Regions from separate parts of the Homo sapiens genome. Here region 2 is linked to region 1. Evidence: fine-mapped expression QTL. A gene starts in region 1. The other region holds a variant in brackets. All regions are shown on one strand. Distances are from middle to middle. Region 1 holds the start of SLC46A2 (solute carrier family 46 member 2). Region 2 overlaps SNX30 (sorting nexin family member 30).

The links.
Region 2: its variant is fine-mapped to the expression of SLC46A2 in monocytes (Kim-Hellmuth 2017, PIP 0.95).

Annotation. Positions count from the first base shown.
Region 1 is chr9:112,886,480-112,896,338 of GRCh38, forward strand. SLC46A2 (solute carrier family 46 member 2) reads right to left here and starts at 4,397. Exons shown (of 4, transcript NM_033051.4): 1 at 3,074-4,397; 2 at 851-934; 3 at 1-137. The coding sequence starts at 4,202.
Region 2 is chr9:112,856,791-112,866,649 of GRCh38, forward strand. It overlaps SNX30 (sorting nexin family member 30), which reads left to right. Exons shown (of 9, transcript NM_001012994.2): 8 at 7,457-7,609. Among named protein-coding and RNA genes, the nearest start is that of SLC46A2, 29 kb to the right of the region's middle. The variant G/A (reference allele first, on the strand shown) is at 5,953.

The DNA.
Region 1 (9,859 bases):
GAAGGAGAGAAAGGAGGAGAGAGCAAAGCAGGAGCCCACAAACATGTCCATGGTGAGCTGGTAGATCTTGTTGTACAAGGTGGATGTCACCACGCCGGTCAGAGCCAAGGACAGCTGCAGTATGACGAACACCTTTCCTGTGGAAGGGACAGAGGTTACTCCGGAGTGCCTTGCTGTCCCTGCCTCACTCCCCATTAGCTGAGTCTCTGGAGAGTTCTTAGGGGACCCTTCCTTCTTACTCTCTCTCTCTCTCTCTTTTTTTAGAGACAGAGTCTTACTCTGTTGCCCAGGCTGGAGTGTAGTGCCACAATCCTGGCTCACTGCAGCCTTAAACTCCTGGGCTCAGGCAATCCTCCTGCCTCAGCCTCCCGAGTAGCTGGGACTACAGGCATGTGCCACCATGCCCTGCTAATTTTTAATTTTTTTTGTTTAGAGATGGGGGTCTCACTATGTTGTCCAGGCTGGTCTTGAACTCCCAGCCTCATGCGATCCTCTCACCTCGGCCTCCCAAAGCACTGGGATTACAGGAATTGAGCCACTGCACCTGGTGCCTTCTCAGTCTTTGTGTGGCTCAATTCACTAGGAATCCTGCCTCTATCTAGTTGAATCTTCCCAAGGCCTGTGGACGATAGAATCCTTCTTTGACTGTGGCTTTTCAGTGCCTGACTTTCTAAGTCACTCCTATACCCGTCTCCACTCTCTGTGCCCTGGATGGAAACCAGTGTTTCTAGTGTCTTCAAAGATGCTTCTGGAACTGTCTCAAGTGCCTTCTGCAGGTCTGTGCCTCATGCTTAGCAGCTCTGAAACAGCCCGGGCAGAAGATTCCAGAGAGATTCTGTTCACTACTCACCATAAGAGGAGCCCTTTATGAGTTTGGACATAGCTGATCGGATGGTTGTGACGGGGATGAGAGCAAACAGCATGACGGCTCGAGCTGAAAGAGATCACACAAGAACACTCCTTGCTGTAGCCCAGCCTGGGCCAAGGAGGAAATTATCAAAAGCCTCTCTTAGAACCCCCATCTCCCCACAATCCGAATGTGGCTTGACCTGGAGGAAGTCATTTCTCTGCTGGCACACTAGCGCCCTCCCTTGACCAGTCTGTGACCCTCTGAGCTCTGATGCTGCTGTGTATGCTGCATATCAGTCTGCAAGGTGGCTGGGCACAGTTGACATGGTGACAGATGGTGAAATGTGTCTTTACTGGTGGAGTTGAGTGATTACTAGGGAAGTGGAACTGGTACCACCAAAGTGACACAAGGCCCCTTTCTTTGTTTCTCCAGGAGAGAAGTGTCTGTCCTTGACATTAATGAACATCTCTGGGAGATAGTCCCGGGAGCTTTGGCAAATTGCCTCCAGCAATGTGTCCCATGAACGCATCCACTGCATAGCTCTCAAGCTCTATTCTCAAGCTCTATTGATTATCCAGATGCAGTGTGTGTGTGTGTGTGTGTGTGTGTGTGTGTGTGAGAGAGAGAGAGAGAGAGAACGCACAAGAGAGACAGATAGAGACAGACAGCCAGGCGTGGCGGCTCACGCCTGTAATCCTAGCACTCTGGGAGGCCGAGGCGGGTGGATCATCTGAGGTCAGGAGTTCGAGACCAGCCTGAACAACATGGTGAAACCCTGTCTCTACTAGAAATACAAAATTAGCTGGGTGTGGTGGTGCATGCCTATAATTCCAGCTACTTGGGAGGCTGAGGCAGGGGAATCACTTGAACCCAGGAGGTGGAAGTTGCAGTGAGCCGAGATCGTACCATCGCACTCCAGCCTGGGCAACAAGAGTGAAACTCCATCTCAAAAACAAAACAAAACAAAACAAAACCCAAAGAGAGACACAGAGAGAGGTGGTGGGCAAAAGGGGAAGGGGGTACTCTGTCCTATGCTGTTTAATTGAGAAGTGACCAGAGGTTACCTTGCCATTTTGTTAGGTGTTTCTAAGATGTGTGACCTGCCTGGGCCAAGAGCCAGCCTCAGATAACTGTCTGAAGTTGTTTTTTTGATATGATAGCCACTAGCCCCATATAACTATTTAAATTAAATACAATGACATAAAATTTAAAAATCTGTTCTTTAGTTGCGCTAGCTACATTTCAACGGCTCAATAGCCACATGGAGCCAGTGGCTTCTGTATTGGACAGAATGGATAGCAACTATTTCCATCATTCTAGAAAGTTCTATTGGAGCATTCATCTCGAGCTTTCTGCTTATAGTTGTCTGACTTGTGCCCTCAGATGGAAACTTAATGCTGCTTCCTTGGGGAATTTATTACATTGGTTGTGGAAGGCATTTACCGAGTATTTTAATGCATTTTTAAAAAGCCCTTGCTTGACTCCAAATGATTTTAATTAAGGGATCTTTTCAGTAGAATTACTTGAAATTCCACTCCTCCACGTTTTTTTTTTTTTGTTTGTTTGTTTTTTTTTTTTTGAGACAGAGTCTTGCTCTATCACCCAGGCTAGAGTGCAGTGGCACAATCTCGGCTCACTACAACCGCTGCCTCTTGGGTTCAAGTGATTCTTGTGCCTCAGCTTCCTGAGTAGCTAGGACTACAGGTGTGCACCACCACACCTGGCTAATTTTTATGCTTTTGGTAGAGATGAGGTTTTGCTATATTGGCCAGGCTGGTCTTGAACTCCTGGCCTCAAGTGATCCTCCCACCTCCCGCCCAAAGTGCTGGGATTACAGGCGAGAGCCTCTGCGCTCGGCCTTTGAAATTCCATCCCTTTAAAATGGCAAGGGGGTGTGGGGGAAGAAACCCAATTCCATCTCCTCTGTTGAAGGCCATCCTGAAGCCTCCCCTACTGACTCCAGGTACCACTGACCACACCTCCTTGACTGCCCAGAACCATGAACACCACTCTGGTAACATTTCATTCTCAATATAGATAATTAATTAACAATACATTACAGATAAACTCAGGGGCATATAATCTTGTGTCCCTTGTGCCTCCTAGGTAGCAGGTTCAATCCCTGGTGCTGAGCTAGGACACCCAGACCATGGCATCCCTGGTGTCAGCCCCATGATGCAGAGGGCTAGCAATGTCCTGCCTCCTCAAGAATGACAGACTCACCAATATAGAACATGTATGTCTCTTTCACAAAAGCCAAGAGGAGGGCTCCTGACCCAAAGGAGACCATCCCAATCATGATCATGGTGGTGTCCCGAAAGCAGCGGGAGAAGACCAGGACACCCAGGAAGCTGGTGATGAAGATGGTGTACCCTGCAGCCATACCATAGCCCACCTGCACTTGGTTCCAACCGAGAGGCTCCCTCAGCACAAAAAGAGGGATCACGTCCACTGTGCCCACCACCGCCAGGTCATATATGATAGCACCCACAAAGAGCAAGGCAATGGTGGTTTTATGGGGTTTTGCTTTTCCAGGAGATGGAGGGTGCCCCACTGCATACTGTTGGTCCAACTGATCAGGATCCAGAGTGCGGTATGTGCCAACCGTGCCAGACACGGTATCCACGGCGGGGAGCTCCTGGCTGGGTTTGGCCACCGACTCAGGGACCTTTAGCACCAAAAGGCTGTAGAGCAGGGCAAACGAGGCACAGCTCACGCTGCAGGCCGTCAGTATCAGGCCCTGCCCAGAGTGCCCAGCCATCTGCTTGAAGAGATGCCCGGAAGCCATGCTCCCGCAGAACCCCGCCAAGCCCAGCATCAGGTCAATGAGGATGAGGCGCACAGAGCGGCGGCCCTCGGAGGAGCCCAGCGATCCCAGCGCCATGACCCCGGACCAGAAGGCGGAGAAGCCGCCGAATAGCCCGTTCAGCGCCGCCGCCCCGTACAGCACCTCCACTGGCCAGTCCAGCAGCACCTTGAGCAGCAGCCCGAGGCGGGAGAGCAGGAAGCCCAGCAGCGACATGCAGATGGAGATCTTTCGGTGGTAGCGGTCGCTGAGCCATCCCAGCCCGTAGGCGGACAGCAGGGGGGACAGGCCCACCACAAGGTTGTAGATAATGTAGAAATTGGAGATGGCTCTCTGCTGTTGGTCCTCTAGAGCCCCCCGGGGCGATGGGCTGGCACTGTGGTTGGAGGAGCCTCCGGTTCCGTAGGACGCCTTCACCACGAGGAGTAGCCCCGCATCGTAGAGGGAGGCAGCCACCTGGGACGAGGCCACCACGGGCTCAACCCAGGTCCTCGGGTGGAAGCGAGGCAGGTGGCCCCTCCGCGGGCAGGTGACCTCGGGGCTCATGTGACCTCTCTGATGGGGATCGAAGGGCTTTCTGGCTGCAGTGACAAGGATATGCTCCCAAATTCGGCTGCTACGGCTGCTCAGGTTTCAGTCCCGGAGCGCGAGTGTGCTCCGTGCGCCGGGAGCGCGAGTGTGCTCCGTGCGCCGGGAGCGCGCCGGCCAGTGGCGAGCAGAGCCAGGGCACGCAGCGCCTGTGACAGCAGCCCGCCCAGCAGCCGAGTGACCTCCCGAGTGACTCCTCCTCAGGCCAGAAAAGGCCGCGCTCCACCCTGCCCTCGCCACCTCAGGCAGAGTAGGACTGGCGACAGTCCAGGGAAGCCAGGCGCGGGGGAGCGCACCGCGAGTGCTGGCTCCTGGCGCCAGCACCCCCGGGGCCGACGGGTCACGCTGCTCCTGTGAGCGCGGCCGCCTGACGGGGCCGAATTTCCCCACAGCCAGGCGTGCGTGCCCGGACCTCCCGCGGATCTCTGCGGACCCCCCACCACCGGGGCAGGGGCTGGAAGGAAGCTCCCCAGGACTGGCTCAGGGAGCGTTTCCAAATTCTCCCATCCCAGGAAGGCAGGTTTGCGCGAGGGGTGGGACGCCTAGGATTCTGCCTAGGATAAGTATTGGGGTGTGAAGTTTTATTTATAGATTTAATGCAACAGGGGCCCATGTGCTATAGGCAGCTGGGTAGCACTTTGAGAGAAGTAAAAACTTGGGAGCCGCCAGGTCCAGGCTCTTCTCCAAGCCAAAGGCCTCTTAGAGAAGAGTCCTGTTTGGTACACCTGCATTGGTGGGCCTAGTGCCTGGGCCTTGTCTAGAAGGCTCCTGCCCCAAACCCCAGGGCCAAGGGAGAGACGGCAAGATCCTGCCAGCCCTAGATGTCCCCCTAGATGATAAAACTGGACTCTTGGGCAGGGGCTTGAGCCCACTGGAAGGGGCAGAGTCACCAGGGTCCTCATCTGAATCAAGTGCCCAGGTCCCTTTCTGCTTGTTAGTAGTCACTCTTCTTCTGTCTGTGGGCTCACTCCCCTGGGCTGGGCTGAGACCTCCACTTCCCAGGTGGCCTCGCTTCTTGTTTAGGTACATACTTCTGCAAAGAAAACCAGGGTGATGGATGGTGCAGGGGCCAAAATGTACCACAGAGCATGACCTGTTCCATGGTCAGCCCCAGGGATGGAGACTCAAAGCACACAGCCTTCCTGTCCCTCTACCCACAATCCACTATAGCTCTGGCAGCGTGGATGATCAGGAACCCAAAGACATGAAAGGGAGACGCAGGTATGCAGGGAGAGCTTAAAATGCCACATGGATAATATACTCATGTAGGGAGTAGGGACTGGATTCCAAATGATTTAGTGTATCTATGTGCTCTTTTGGTAGTGTTTAGGTGGGCTATAATCTCCTCCCCTGCCACCCTCAACCTCCAGCATGGCCCAGCCTCCTCGTGTCTAGGCCCAGACGACTCTGCCTTCTGCAAAGAGAAAGACACACCTAGTCTTGCCCTTCAAGATGTGCCCCATGGATCTGGCCCAGCAGCCCATTTCCTTCTTCCTCCCCCTCACCTAGGGTCACCTTGGGAGATACATGTTTCACCCAACCCAAGCCTGGCTCTCCCACTCCATTCTTAATTTTTCCAGAGGCTACAGCAAACAGTCCAAACACCTTGATCCTATGAGGGGTGGAGACTCCAGTGAATGAGTAGGTTATGGGGCCAGGTGGTATTCCACAATCAAATATGGCCATGAGAACAACCTGACCCAGATGGACCACTCTGGCCACTTGATCAAGGAGTCTGTGCATTCTAGGGCTCTAGACTGTAGGGGGCAGCCCTTGTCATCTCTGGGAGGGTCTGTGGTATTTCAGTTCTTCCCATTGTCTTGGGAAACCAGGGACATTTGAAGGGTCTCTGAGAGAGTCACATCAGATCTAGAACAGATCTAGTAGGAGCTGGGTTATTAGGATGCTAGTCAGCCCTAGGAACCCCCAGGCTTCTGAGTTCTCTGGCCTGGAAATGAACAAGACTCAGGGTAGTCAGTGTCTCTCCCAGTTTAGGCTACTGTGGGTTGGATTATATTCTCATCATGTCCCCACTTCTTGCTCCATCTCTGAATGCAGGCCCCAGGTGAGCTAGCACCTGGTCATCCTCTGCAGCCCAGGCTACCAGCAAGTAGAGCCCTGACCTTGCCACTTCAAGATAGAATCTAGTCTCCAGTGCAAGGTTGGCTTCATTAAAGTGCAAGTACTAAATCTCTGATGTTTAGATTGATAAAATCACACTATTCCAGAAGAAAGGAACTAAGAAAAAAAACAGTAGCAACTAATATTTTTTGAGCCCTTATTATGTACTAAGCATTTTACGTGAATGAATTTAATCCTCCCGAGAAGTCTGTGAGCTGATCTATCACCCCATTTTTACAGACTGAGATACTGAAACCAGAGAGGTTAGGAAATTTGCACAAGATCACAAGGCCAGTAAATCAGGAAACTAGTATTTGGCATCAGACAGTCTTTGCAAGCCTACAGCTATGGGGAAAATACAGTTGCCAGAAATTTTTATTTGAGGATGTCCTCTTAACCCACATTGGAATGTGGAGAGGAGTAGAAACAACACAATCATGTTGTGATTATTGTTGATCAACAATGTATTGCATAAATAGGAACAAGAGAGTGGATAGATTATCTGTTGAACCTATATCCCAGGCACTTTACACTCAGGCAAGGAATACTTTTGTTTTCTTAACAAAATTCATAGCCCCTAAATTCATCTTAGAAAGGAACAGTCTTTGAAAAACACCTTTGGTCAGTGTTAGAGAGTGAAATTCTCAGGTCTGAGGATTCCAGCTGTGGAGGAGGTTCCAGAGAGGGGGCGGAACCTTTATGCTTGAGTCAACGAGAGGGAAGGGTGAGAGAGAGAACCAAGGAGGGAGAAGAGAGGGGAAAGAAGTTCAGGGAGGAAGTAAGATCAGCAGGTATTGGTGAGAAGGGTCAGGACTAGAACTCTTGGCGTCAGGGTGGTCTGAAGGAACTTTTGAAGAATAAGAATGTCTAGTGTGGATTTTAAACATCTTACTGTATCATGTACATGTGAATCCTTAGTGTGACCTCCCTTTGCTCCTCAGTTCTTAATTTCTTTTTCTTTCTTTTTTTCTTTTCTTTCTTTTTTTTTTTTAGACAGGGTCTTGCTTCTGTTGCTCAGGCTGGAGTGCAGTGTTGCGATCAAAGCTCACTAGAACCTCAAATTCCCGGGCTCAGCCAATCCTCCTGCTCCAGCCTCCCAAGTAATTGGGGCTACAGGCATGCACCACTGCACCCAGTTAATTTTAATTTTAATTTTTTTTCTGGTAAAAACAGCATCTCACTATGTTATCCAGGTTGCTCAGATTGGTCTCAAACCCTTGGCTTCAAGCGATCCTCCCACATCAGCCTCCCAAAGTGCTGGGATTACAGGTGTGAATCACTGCACCTGGCCTTCCTGAGTTCTTTAGAAAAGTTTATTCATAAATGTTTTGTGCAAGTGGCATTTTTTTTTTGTTTTTTATTTTGGTAGAAACTGCTGAGGAAGCTATGATTCATCTCTGGATTGACATAATGCTGAGCAGAGACCACAAGGGAGGAAAAGGAAGCCATGAGAACACAAATCTCCCAAGGATTCACTGAAATCTGGAATAGGCTTTGGACTTTCACAGGCTATGAGATTGGGGAGTTAAGCCATCTGACCCAGATCCTGAGGGGCAGAGAGACCCTTCAGCTAATGTGCAGACTACACTGATGGGGAAGGCCAAGGCAGGAGGAGTGCCTGAAGCCAGGAGTTTGAGACCAGGCTAGGCATCCTGGGCAATGCAGTGAGACCGTCTCTACAGAAAAAACTTAAAAATTAGCTGGGCATAGTGGTGCATACCTGTAGTCCCAGGTATTTGGGAGGCTGGGGTGGAAGGATAGCTTGAGCCCGGGAGTTTGAGGCTCCAGTGAGCTATGATTGCACCACTTCACTCCAGCCTGGGCAACAGAAAGAGACCGTCTCTCTTTATTGTTAATATTTCAGGGGCTGTGGTAAGCCTTTCCCTCAAAAATTGGGAGCAAGGAAAATAAGATACCCCCTCAAGCATTAATATATAGTAGAAAAAAGTAAAGATGTATAAACTCATTCAAGAAGACAGAGACAAATCTTGTCAGTGACCACCAAGGACTTTATTTCAAGTGTTTCCCAATGACTGTCTCATCACTACATGCAAGATGTTGCCCAAGTCTCTTTGCCTGACCTTGAGAACTTTCTGATTGTGGTTTTACTTCCCCATTATAGTTGCAAACAGGGAGAAAATGTGCTAGTTACTTTGAGTCTCCAAATAATTTCCCCTGATAAATTAATAAATTAGCGTTCTAGTTTATGTATCAGCCTTTCTGGGTCTGAATCTGGGAAATGGCTTCCCTCCCCGTATACTGATGAAATGAAGTATATTACGGTTAGACTGAGAGTCAGGCCCTGTCCACAGTAAATTCATCAAAATAATGACTGCCACCCATGGATGCCCTTGGAATATTGTTTCATTGGGCTTTTCCCTCAGAGGTGGCACCCTAACATTGCCCAGTTTTATAGAAACTTTGACTTAGGGTAGCTAAATCACTTGCACAAGGTCACACAGAGCCAGGTACTTAGGGTTGTGTGACTTCAGAATCTATCTATTTTCACAGTGCTTCATTTCTGAGGTAATTGAGTAGAAGGGGTGCATTTTAAGAAGGTGTTTGGTTGTTGAATGTTTCCCACCAAATATTGTGAGCCTATATTTCTATCTAAGATATTTTCAAACTCAGTGGTTAGTTTGTTCGTTTACTCATTCATCATCTGTCCATCCACCCATTTACCCACCCATCATCCATCCATCTACCCACACATCTATCCATCCATCCACCCACCCACCCATCATCCATCCATCTATCTACCCATCCATCCACCCACCCACCCATCATTCATCCATCCATCCATCTACCCATTCACCCTTCTACCCTTCCATCCACCCACCCACCCATCATCCATCTGTCTATTCATCCACCAACCCATTATTAATCCATCCATCCACCCACCCATTATCCATCTACCCATCCACCCACCCATCCACCCATCCATCCATCCACCCACCCATCATCCATCCATCTACCCATCAACCCACCCATCATCCATCCATCCACCCACCCATCATCCATTCATCTGTCCACCACCCACACGTTATCCATCCATCCATCTATCCATCTACCCACCTATCACCCATCCATCCATCCATCCACCCATTCACCCATCCATCCATCCATCCATCCATCCATCCATCCATCCACCCATCATCCATCCAATGCATCATCTATCCATCCATCCCTTTGTTAATCTTTAAGCACTTATTGAGTATCAGGCCCACCAATAGGTATGAGGGATGCAAATTCCTTTGCCCTTAAGGATCTTTTAGTCTGAAGAGTTATCAAAAGGCACTCAAGTTAACACTATATGCTCTGTTTTACACACGAAGTCACTGAAGCCAGGCCATGTCTCCTCTTTTATCAAGGAATTTCTCTCCACCCCAGGCTCTGCTATCAACCTGAATGACCTTACTAGCCTATGTTTTTTTGTGTGGTTTCCCTTCCCTACAAGGAAATAACTCTAATGCAAATCAGGACGCAGATAGAGG
Region 2 (9,859 bases), 30 kb before region 1:
ACCCTTCTGGCAAGTGAGGACCCTCACCATGGGGCAGAAGACCAGGTGCCTCCAGCCAGAGCAGGCAGAACTCCCCCATCCCCTCAGCTGACTTAAGTCCCACCGCAGCCACCCTCTGCCAGTGCGGTGGTTTCCATGTGACAGATGGGGGCCCGGGGTCAGGGGAAGCGTGGAACTTAAGTGCCAAAGTCAACAAATGGTGGAGCCGGTATGGAGTCCAAGTGCATCTGGCTCCAAAACTGGTGCCTTTCCCCAGGGCGCGGGCCCCAGCAGCTGTGCTCCCTGAGGGGGCGCCCTGCCTTTCCCGAGGCAGGCACGGAGAGTGCGTGTGGCCTTCCCTGGGGCTTCACTCTCGTGTCATTGCGCAGGCAAGCTCGAGGATCTCTTGCTGTCAGCCTCTCTGCTCCTCATCTCATGCCCTCACCTCTCCCTCCCTCACTCCCCACTGACCATTCTCTGAAGTTTGTTTTTATCTATAATTAAAAAAGCATTCATTCAGAGAGCCACTGACTTTCTATTTGCCCAATTCCATGGCCTCTTTTCAGACTTGACCCTGTATCAGTGTTTTCTTACCTGTTTTCACCTCACAGCTCAAATAGACACTGAAAACGCAGTTGCTGGAAGCTGGAGGTGACCAGCCTGGGGGCTCTGGCTTCCCAGAGGGCAGAGGACCAATCTCTCTGCCACTCACACATTGCCAGTTAGGGAGCCCTGTCCCCTGCTCACTCAGCAGCGTGTGGCTGTCACTGGTCCTGGAGCCTGTCCTACAGCAGCCACGAGCTCCCCTTTCCTCCACACTTTGGGATTATATCTGTCTTGTGTAGTCTTTGGGGATTTTCCTAACCTACTATCATCATGAGAGCAGATAATGTGACATCTCCAACCCAGCTCCAAGAAGGAGACTTAAGTTGAGATTTCTGTTCTAGGGCCTGGAAATGCGTGGCACATGGAAGGAGCTCAGTAACGCATGCATGCATGCATCCATCCATCCATCCATCCATCCAACCATCCATCCATCCATCTATCTATTTATTTATTGCTCTGTTGCCAGGCTGGAGTGCAGTGGCTCAATCTCGGCTCACTGAGTAATGCGTTTTTAAATGAATGTTGAGTGAATTTAAGTTACTGTCCCGTTCCCCAGCACACAGAAATGCACAGTCCCATCCACGTGACTCTTCTGTCATTGCACTAACAACCTATATTCTGTAATGGAAATTCTCATGAGAGATTGGGAACCAAGGTGAAAAATGCAATTTTGTCACCTCTGTATAAATTTTTATCTTTTGAGGTCTTATCTGGTGATATTTTTCCTTGGTGTCATGATAAGCAACACCCAACCATTAGCAGTGCTGTGCCATGTCAACATCCTTCAGACGCATGGTAGCACAACCGTAACAATACCTCAGTCACGAAAATTAAAACATTGAGATAAGAGGAAATGCTGAGGGTGGTGGCCCACACCTGTTATTATCTCAGCACTCTGGGAGGCCAAGACAGGAAGATCGCCTGAGCTCAGGAGTTCGAGACCAGCCTGGGCAAGGTAGCAAGACCTCGCCTCTACTCCAGATAAAAATATTAGCTGGGTGTGATGGTGTGCATCTGTAGTTACAGCTACTCGGGAGGCTGAGGCAGGAGGATCGCTTGAACTTGGGAGATTGAGGCTACAGTGAGCTGTGATTGTGCCACTGCACTCCAGCCTGGGAAACAGAGCAAGACCTGTCTCAAAAATAAATAAAAAATAAAAGTAAAAAGAATGCTTAGTGTTACTGGTCAGTGAATTGATAGTTACAAAGACACTATCCAAAAAATCAAAGGTGGAAGAATACATGCCTGAGCATGAGTTGCCAGCGCTCCCCTTCTTCAAGTTGGGGAACTTCACAAGCTGGTCACAGACAGCTCACCCCAGTTCCTCTTTTTAATTCTTCCATCCTCTTCTAACTCCTACCACCCCTGGGCTTCTCTGGCTCTGTTCTCTCTGATTCACCACCTCCTCTTTCTGTGCCCGCCTTTCTGCCTTCCCGAGTGACTTTTGCTGAGTCCTTTATTAACCCTACACATGCTGGCTTCTCTGTGAGTTCAAACCTTGGGCCCTGCCTCCCTCAGCCCCACCTTTCCCTCCATATATTTAAACAAGATTATACTGTGGTAAAATATACAGAATATAAAATTTGCCATCTTAACCATTTAAAAGTGTACAGCTTAGTCGTGTTAAGCACATTTACATTGTTGTGCAATCGATATCTGGAACTCTTTTCATCTTGCAGAACTGAAACTCTGACCCATTAAACAACTCTCCATTCCCCCTCCTGCCGGCCTCTAGAAACCCCTGTTCTACTTTCTGTCTCTATGACTTTGACCATTCTAGATACCTCGTATCTAGAATAATATAATATTTATCCTGTGACTGGCTTATTTCACTCAGTGTAATGTCCTTGGTTTATCCATGTTGTAATGTGTTAGAATTCCCTTCCTTTTTGAGGCTGAATAATATCCCATATATATGGGACATACACACACATACATACATACACATACATATACATACCACATTTTGTTTATCCATTCATCAGTGGACATCTGTGTTGCTTTCATCTTTGGGCTACTGTGAATAATGCTGCTATAAACATGTGTATACAAGTATCTCTGAGACCCTGCTTTCAATTTCTTTGGATATGTACTCAGAAGTGGAATCCAGCAGGATCATATAGTAGTTCTATTTTAAAATTTTTGAGGAATCTCCATACTGTTTTCCATAGCAGCTATACTGTTTTACAATCCACCAACAATGTACAAGGGTTCTAGTTTCCCTATGTTCTTACCAACGCTTATCTATTTTTTTGAGACAGAGTCTTTCTCTGTCGCCCAGGCTAGAGTGCAGTGGCGTGATCTTGGCTCACTGCAATCTCCGCCTCCCGGAGACCAGCCAGGCTGGTCTCGAACTCCTGACCTCAGGTGATCCACTTGCCTTGGCCTCCTGAAGTGCTGGGATTACAGGTGTGAGCCGCTGCACCTGGCCTATTTTCTGTTTTTGTTATTTTTTTTAATAGTAGCCATCCTGATGAGTGTGAGGTGCTATCTCACTGTGGCTTTGATTAGCATTTCACTAGTGATTATGATGTTGAGCATCTTTTCATGTCCTTGTTGACTGTTTATCTTCTTTATTTTTATTTTTTTGAGATGGAGTCTCGCTCTGTCGCCAGGCTGGAGTGCAGTGGCGTGATCTCGGCTCACTGCAACCTCCACCTCCCTGGATCAAGCAATTCTCCTGCCTCAGCCTCCTAAGTAGTTGAGACTACAGGAGCACACCACCATGCCCAGCTAATTTTATTGTATTTTCAGTACAGACAGGGTTTCACCGTGTTGGCCAGGGTGGTCTCGATCTCTTGACCTTGTGATCTGCCCGCCTCAGGCTCCCAAAGTGCTGGGATTACAGGCGTGAGCCACTGCGCCCAGCTGACTGTTTATCTTCTTTGGAGATACGTTTAAGTCCTTTGCTCATTTTTAAATTTGGTTGTGTATTCTTTTCCATAAGCCTTTATAAAAGAGCTGTGTTTGGTTTTCTTGTTATCTCACCCCGCTTTGTGGAGGGAGGCATCACTCTTCCCCTGGCTGCAACTCCCTCCTTTCTGTGATCTGTGGACCTGTCCTTCATTCTGAGCCTTTGGTGGCATTAGTGCCACCCTAGTCATCCAGACTAGAAACTTCAGGCTTCTCTCGGACTCCCTGTATTTTATTTCTCATGGGCAGCCAGTTGCCAAATCTGTCAGTTCTGTCTCCACCAGGTTGGTTTACTCCATCCTCTCCCTTCTGGTGTTAGAGCCACAACCCCAGTTCCAGGATGCCCAGTGCAATCTCATGCTAATATGTAGTTTGGAGATGATTCATCTCTGGTGTCTAATGAAATCTCAGGGTGGAGTAGCATTGGCAAAGGGTGGCATAATGTTTGGGAGAACATATAATAATATAGTTTGTATTTGGAAGATGAAAACCTGTTTTATAACACATGGAATAAAGCTTGAGGAGCTGTGCAAGGGATAGATTATCTTTTGTGAACAGCAAATTATAATATTGATACTGATATGAGCTAACAAATGTTTATTGAGCACTTACTATATGCCAGGCACAAGTGTGTCACAGGTGTGCAATGACTCTCTGGAACCAGTGTTGCAGGGGTAAGAAGAATTTACCAAGACAATTATAGGTAAAGAAAAACAGATTTATTAGAAAAAGTAGGAAAATACATTGCAAGAGTGCAACAGGCAGATCAGCAGGAAGGGAGCTGACTGCCCAGAAACAAAGGCTTGCTGGGGATTTCATAGAATGGTGCTCGTGCTGTGTACTGAAGAGGGCTTCATGCAGTGCTGATAACTCCAAGGTCGCAGTGAGCAAACTTGCATTTTTCTATTAACTGAGGGTCTGGTGATAGCTGGGTGCAGGAAGATTGTGTTATTAATATTTGTGCAGGAAGGCTATGTGTCCTGGACCATGAAGAAAAGCAGAAGTATAGCTTAATCTGCCTTCTCTTTTTGCTTTCCCTTGGTCCTGTCAGCCCAACTCCCCCTTCCTAATTAGGACGCTGTAAAGCACTTAACACATATTAGCCTGTCTGGCCTCATGACAGCCTAGTGAGGCGGAGGATATTATTAGCCAGACAGAGAAGCTGAGGCCAGGTCCCAGGCCACACACCTGGTAAGTGGCAGGTGGGGTGTGCAAGCTAAGCTCTGGAAGTTTGGTTCTAGAGCTGTCCACTGCAGCTGGAGGAAGTGTGGGGCTTTTTCTATTCTCCAAGAGTGGGCATGAGTTAACTGGGCCTCAGGAAAGCAGGACTTTGGGACGAGCCTCAGGTTCCTCATCCCCTGCCACCCTCTGCCAGTCTTGCGAGCTGCAGTTCCCTCTCCGTGCCGCTGTGGGCCCTGTGGCCTGTGCACAATTCCTGCGGTGGGTCCTGGTGTCTTCTCTCCTCTGTCCCTTGTGTGTACCGCCACTCTGGAGTGCCTTCCAAGTGGTCAAACATCTCACATCTGTCATCTTTAAAGAGCCGCCTCAGTGCTGTTTCCTCCATGAGGCCCGATCTTCCCAGGTTGGCCGCCCCCTCCATCCTCCTCAGCGTGCTTATCACGGGGGCTGCAGGGGAAGCGACAACACTTACGATATCTTGCCTCAGTGTCTAGGCATGTTCCTGTTTCTTCCCAACTAGACTGTAGGTTACGGGAGACAAGATTTGTCTGTTGAGACCCAAGCACTTTTGTATTCCTCAGTGCCAAGCACAGAATGTGTTGTGAAACTGAGAAGCCAAATATTTCCCAGACCGAGGCTCAGGCAGTCCTAAAACCCACAGCCGTGGTTTAGACCCTGATTTTTCTGGGTCAGTCAGAGTTCCCATCTCCAGAACACACCTGGGAATCTTTAAACCTGGGAATCTTTCCTCTGTGAACAGTCCTGATTCAGAGACCCTGGCTGCCCTCCTCTCCACGTGTCCTGGTGAGGTTCTCTTTCCAGGGCTTTCCATTTTCTCCTCACAGCAGAAGTTTCGTTAAGCAAACAGGAAGTTGCTCATAGGCACCCTCACCCCAATGCAAGTGTGAGCAGTGGCCAGGAGACGGGTAAGGGAACTGGCCTGTGCCTGTGGGGAGGTGAGGCCAGCCAGAGACACTGGCTCGCTGGGCATCTTTCCATTGAGGCTGATTCCTGGAGTGACTCTGGAGAGGCAAGACTGGGATACTCTGGTTTTTATTTCAGTTTTTCCTGAGGTAACCAATAGTAATGGGTGGTCTTGGGAGGAGGCAAAAGAGACTTAAATCATGGCATCAGAAGAAAAAGTCAGTCTCTGACCTGGTATGGTGGCTCAAACCTGTAATTCCAGTGCTTTGGGGGACCGAGGTGGGAGGATCACTGGAGGCCAGGAGTTCGAGACCAGCCTGGACAACATAGCGCCACCACATCCTACTTATT[G/A]TAGAGATGGGGGTCTTACTATGTTGCCCAGGCTGGTCTCAAATTCCTGACCTCCAGTGATCTTCTGCCTTGGCCTCCCAAAGTGCTGGGAGGCATGAACCACTGCACTCAGCCCAGTATTTTTTTTTTCCCTCTTCCAGAAGCTTATGTGCTTTGAAGAAGGCCTCTTTCCCCATCTTAACAGAAAAATTCCTTGCTTTTAAATTTCCAGAGTGTCTAGTTATCTCTCTCTCCAGCTCATCCTGGTTTCACCCATGTCTAGTTCCCGTGTCAGGCACATTCAAATTCACTTGCCTTGGCCATGTCTCTTCCCTGACTCCTGTGTTCTACAACCATCTCCACGTGGTCTGTGGAGAAGATGGCTGAGTACCCTGAAGGTGTCCAGCTCCCTCAGGCCTGTCTTTCTCATTGGCATCATTCTGGGTCAGCTCCTTGTCCACGAGGCTTGGGTATAAACCTCCTCGATTGGTGGAAGTGGACTCCCAGGGGTGAGCCATGGCTTGGAGACAGTTTGGTTCATGGGCCCCAGCACACCAAACATAAAAGGCCTCACTTGTGGTTGGGATACATTTGGCAGGTCGGGGGTTTGACCTGGCTTTGGGCCTGTCGGCTCCCTGGCCGCCATCAGGGCTCAGTGAAGTGCTTGAGTTAGGAGAGAGAAGCCAGCTTTGGGAAGCGCTGCAGCCACAAAGCCCAAACTCCAGCTGCACAGGATGGTGAAATTCACCAAAGCAAAGTGAAAGTTGTGAAACTTCAAGTGACATAGTTCCCTTTTGAGAAAGTCTTCTAAACCTCTTTAAGAAAAACTTGAAATAGCCTGCTGTATATTTCTTCTTTGAATTTCAAATTTTTTTGACATGCATAAGTAACTTTCCTCCTGTTTTCTCAGACTTCTCTAACTCTCCATTTAAAAGTATCTGCTATTGGGAAAAGCATAAACAAGCCTCCAGTTTATTTATGATGTGGGGTTCAGAGGAGGCAGCTGGCCAGTAGTTGTCTTATTGCAATTCTCTGATTAATGAGGAAAGGCATCATCAAATGTCACAGCAATGGAATAGTTCATGTGATCTGGGAGAACCTACCTCTTCTCTAGTTCCAATATGGGACACAGGAGAATAGCAGGGCAATACAAATGCTGTATATTTGCAAAGTCTGCACACACTTTCAAGTGTGGATGAGTAAATCCTAAAAGGAACCAAAGACATATGAGTCTGAATTGCAATGTTTCTTCTTCCTGTGTGTAAATGGGGGTGTTTCCCCCACGAGTCTCTGTTGTGTTTGGATGGGTTTGAAGATCTGGGTTAGGAGAGCCCCTTTTCAGAGCTCCTCCTTAGACCTGAAAACCCAAGGTTTTGCTTTCAAATAAATGCCTCCAGAGGAGGGAGCGTGTTGATAGCATTTTAATGTAGGGCTTTGGCCTTTGACAAATGTGTGCTCAGAGGAGCTCAAGGCAAGAGATGCCAGTTTTGTGTGCAGGGCACCCATGTGTGCCTCCCTTTTCCAGGTACCGGCGGACGTCGAGAAATGTCAGGATCGGATGGAGTGTTTCAATGCTGACCTGAAAGCTGACATGGAGAGGTGGCAGAACAACAAGAGGCAGGACTTCCGGCAGCTACTCATGGGGATGGCTGACAAGAACATCCAGTATTATGAGAAGGTAATGAGTGTGCCCAACAAGACTGGTTTCTAATGGCCAGAGCCTTTCACATGGGCCTACCAGAAATCCACAAGCTGGGAATCCTGCTAGTCTCATCTCCTTCCCTTATTTTAGCTGCTTAGTCTTGGCTCCCGCTTCATGCCCTTGCCCAACCATGTGGCTGCAGTGCTGGGTTTGGCAGCAGAGGGGGTGCTCACAGGGGTTTCCCTTGCACATGCTGCTGGGGAAGCAGCCCATTCGTCTTCCATGCTTTCTGGGCCTGGCACTGGTTGCTTCCCAGAGCCAGTCAGACCTTCAGCACAGTGATGCTGCCACCGAATGGAGGCTTTGGGGTTACTTTACTCTGTGTTGGGGTTCTGTACACAGGGTCCCTTCAGTTTGGTTGTGCAGTGAACCCCTTTGGTCATCTGGTGAAGCCTATAGACCCCTCACCAAAATACTGTGCATTTGTTTTTTAAATAGACTTCAAAATATTGATTTTAAATACGTAAAATAAAGGGATGTAGGATTACAAAGGAAAGCAATTCTATTAAAAACTTTTACTCATGGATCCCCTTGACCAGGTTAAGCAGCGCACGCACATGCGCGTGCACACACACACACACCCACACACCCCACTACCACCACCACACCCCACACACACACTACACACACACCACACCCCCCCACACTACACACACACCACACATACACCACACACCCCCCATACTACATGCACACCACACACCCCCTACACATACACCCCACATACACACCCCACACACAACCCCCCCACACACGACACCCACACACCACACCCACATACCTCACACAACCCTCACACACAACCCCCACACACACCATACACACACCACACACACATAGAGATGACTCTTATCAGGCTACAGCCCAGTCCCCTCAATCAAGGTTTGCTTGATTCGTATGTCCAGCAAACCAGTGCGAGGCCAGGTGCAGTGGCTCACGCCCGTAATCCCAGCACTTGAAGAGTCCGAGGTGGGAGGATCACTTGAGCCCAGCTCAAGACCAGCCTAGGCAATGTAGTGGGACTGTCGTTACAAAAGATACAAAATGAGCCAGGTGTGGTGGCGTGTGCCTATAGTTCCAGCTACTCGGGAGGCTGTGGCAGGAGGATGGCTTGAGCCAGGAGTTCAAGGCTACAGTGAGTCATGATTGTGCACTACTGTACTCCAACCTGGGTAACAGAGTTTTTTGATCCTGTCACGCCATATATATATATATATATATATATATATATATATATATGTATGTATGTATGCACACACACACACACGTATACACACATATATATACACACATATACATACATACATACACACATGAGTGAGTGTGTGTGTGTGTGTATGTATGTATGTATGTATATATATATATATATTGCGATAGGGTCAAAAACTCTGTTACCCAGGTTGGAGTGCAGTAGTGCAGTCTGTTACCCAGAGTTCCTTTCTTCTGTAACTCCCACACCTTCCCTCTGCTGTTCAGCGGCCTTCCTACTACTACAAAACCAACTATGTCAAATGTCTCTGTTGCTCCCTTTGGTAATTAATCCCAGCGTTCCTAAAGTCCTGGTCCCAGGAGGACCCAACCCTGGTCTTAAGTACGTGTTTATCTGTCTTCCCACTATATCACAGGCAGGGCCACTGTCTTGGGGCCTGGTATTGCTTCTATACATATTTAACAAATGCTTTTTGTGCACTTGCTGTGTGCAAGGGGCAGTGTGTACCAAATTGATAAACAGCAGGATTCCTGCCCTGTGGAGGGTATGTGTTCATCAAAGGAGCCCACAGCTTCAGAGTGAGATAAGGAAAAGAACGGGAAACTGGGGGAGAAAATACTAGGGGGCATAATGCAGACTAAGGGTGGGAGGGGCAAGTGGAGTGGTCAGGAAAGGCCAGTCTGAGGAAATGACATTTCATCCGAGTCTCAGAGACAGAGGCTTGGAAAACATATATTCCAGGTATAGGAGACAACATACGCAAAGTCCCTGGGGCAGGAAAGAGTTTGGTACATTTGAGGACCAAATAGAAAACTGGTATGGCCTTGGTTTATCATGGCTGACATACAAAGTCCATTGCAGATCTGAAGTGATGGCCTAGGGAGAGAGCAGGACCTGGAATGCCACAGACCCCAGATCATCTTCCGTATATAAGGTGGGCTTCAGAGTTTAGCTTCCTCTCTAACCTCAGAGTCACCAAGGAGGAATCAGGAAGCAATTTCACCACTCTTCTTTCT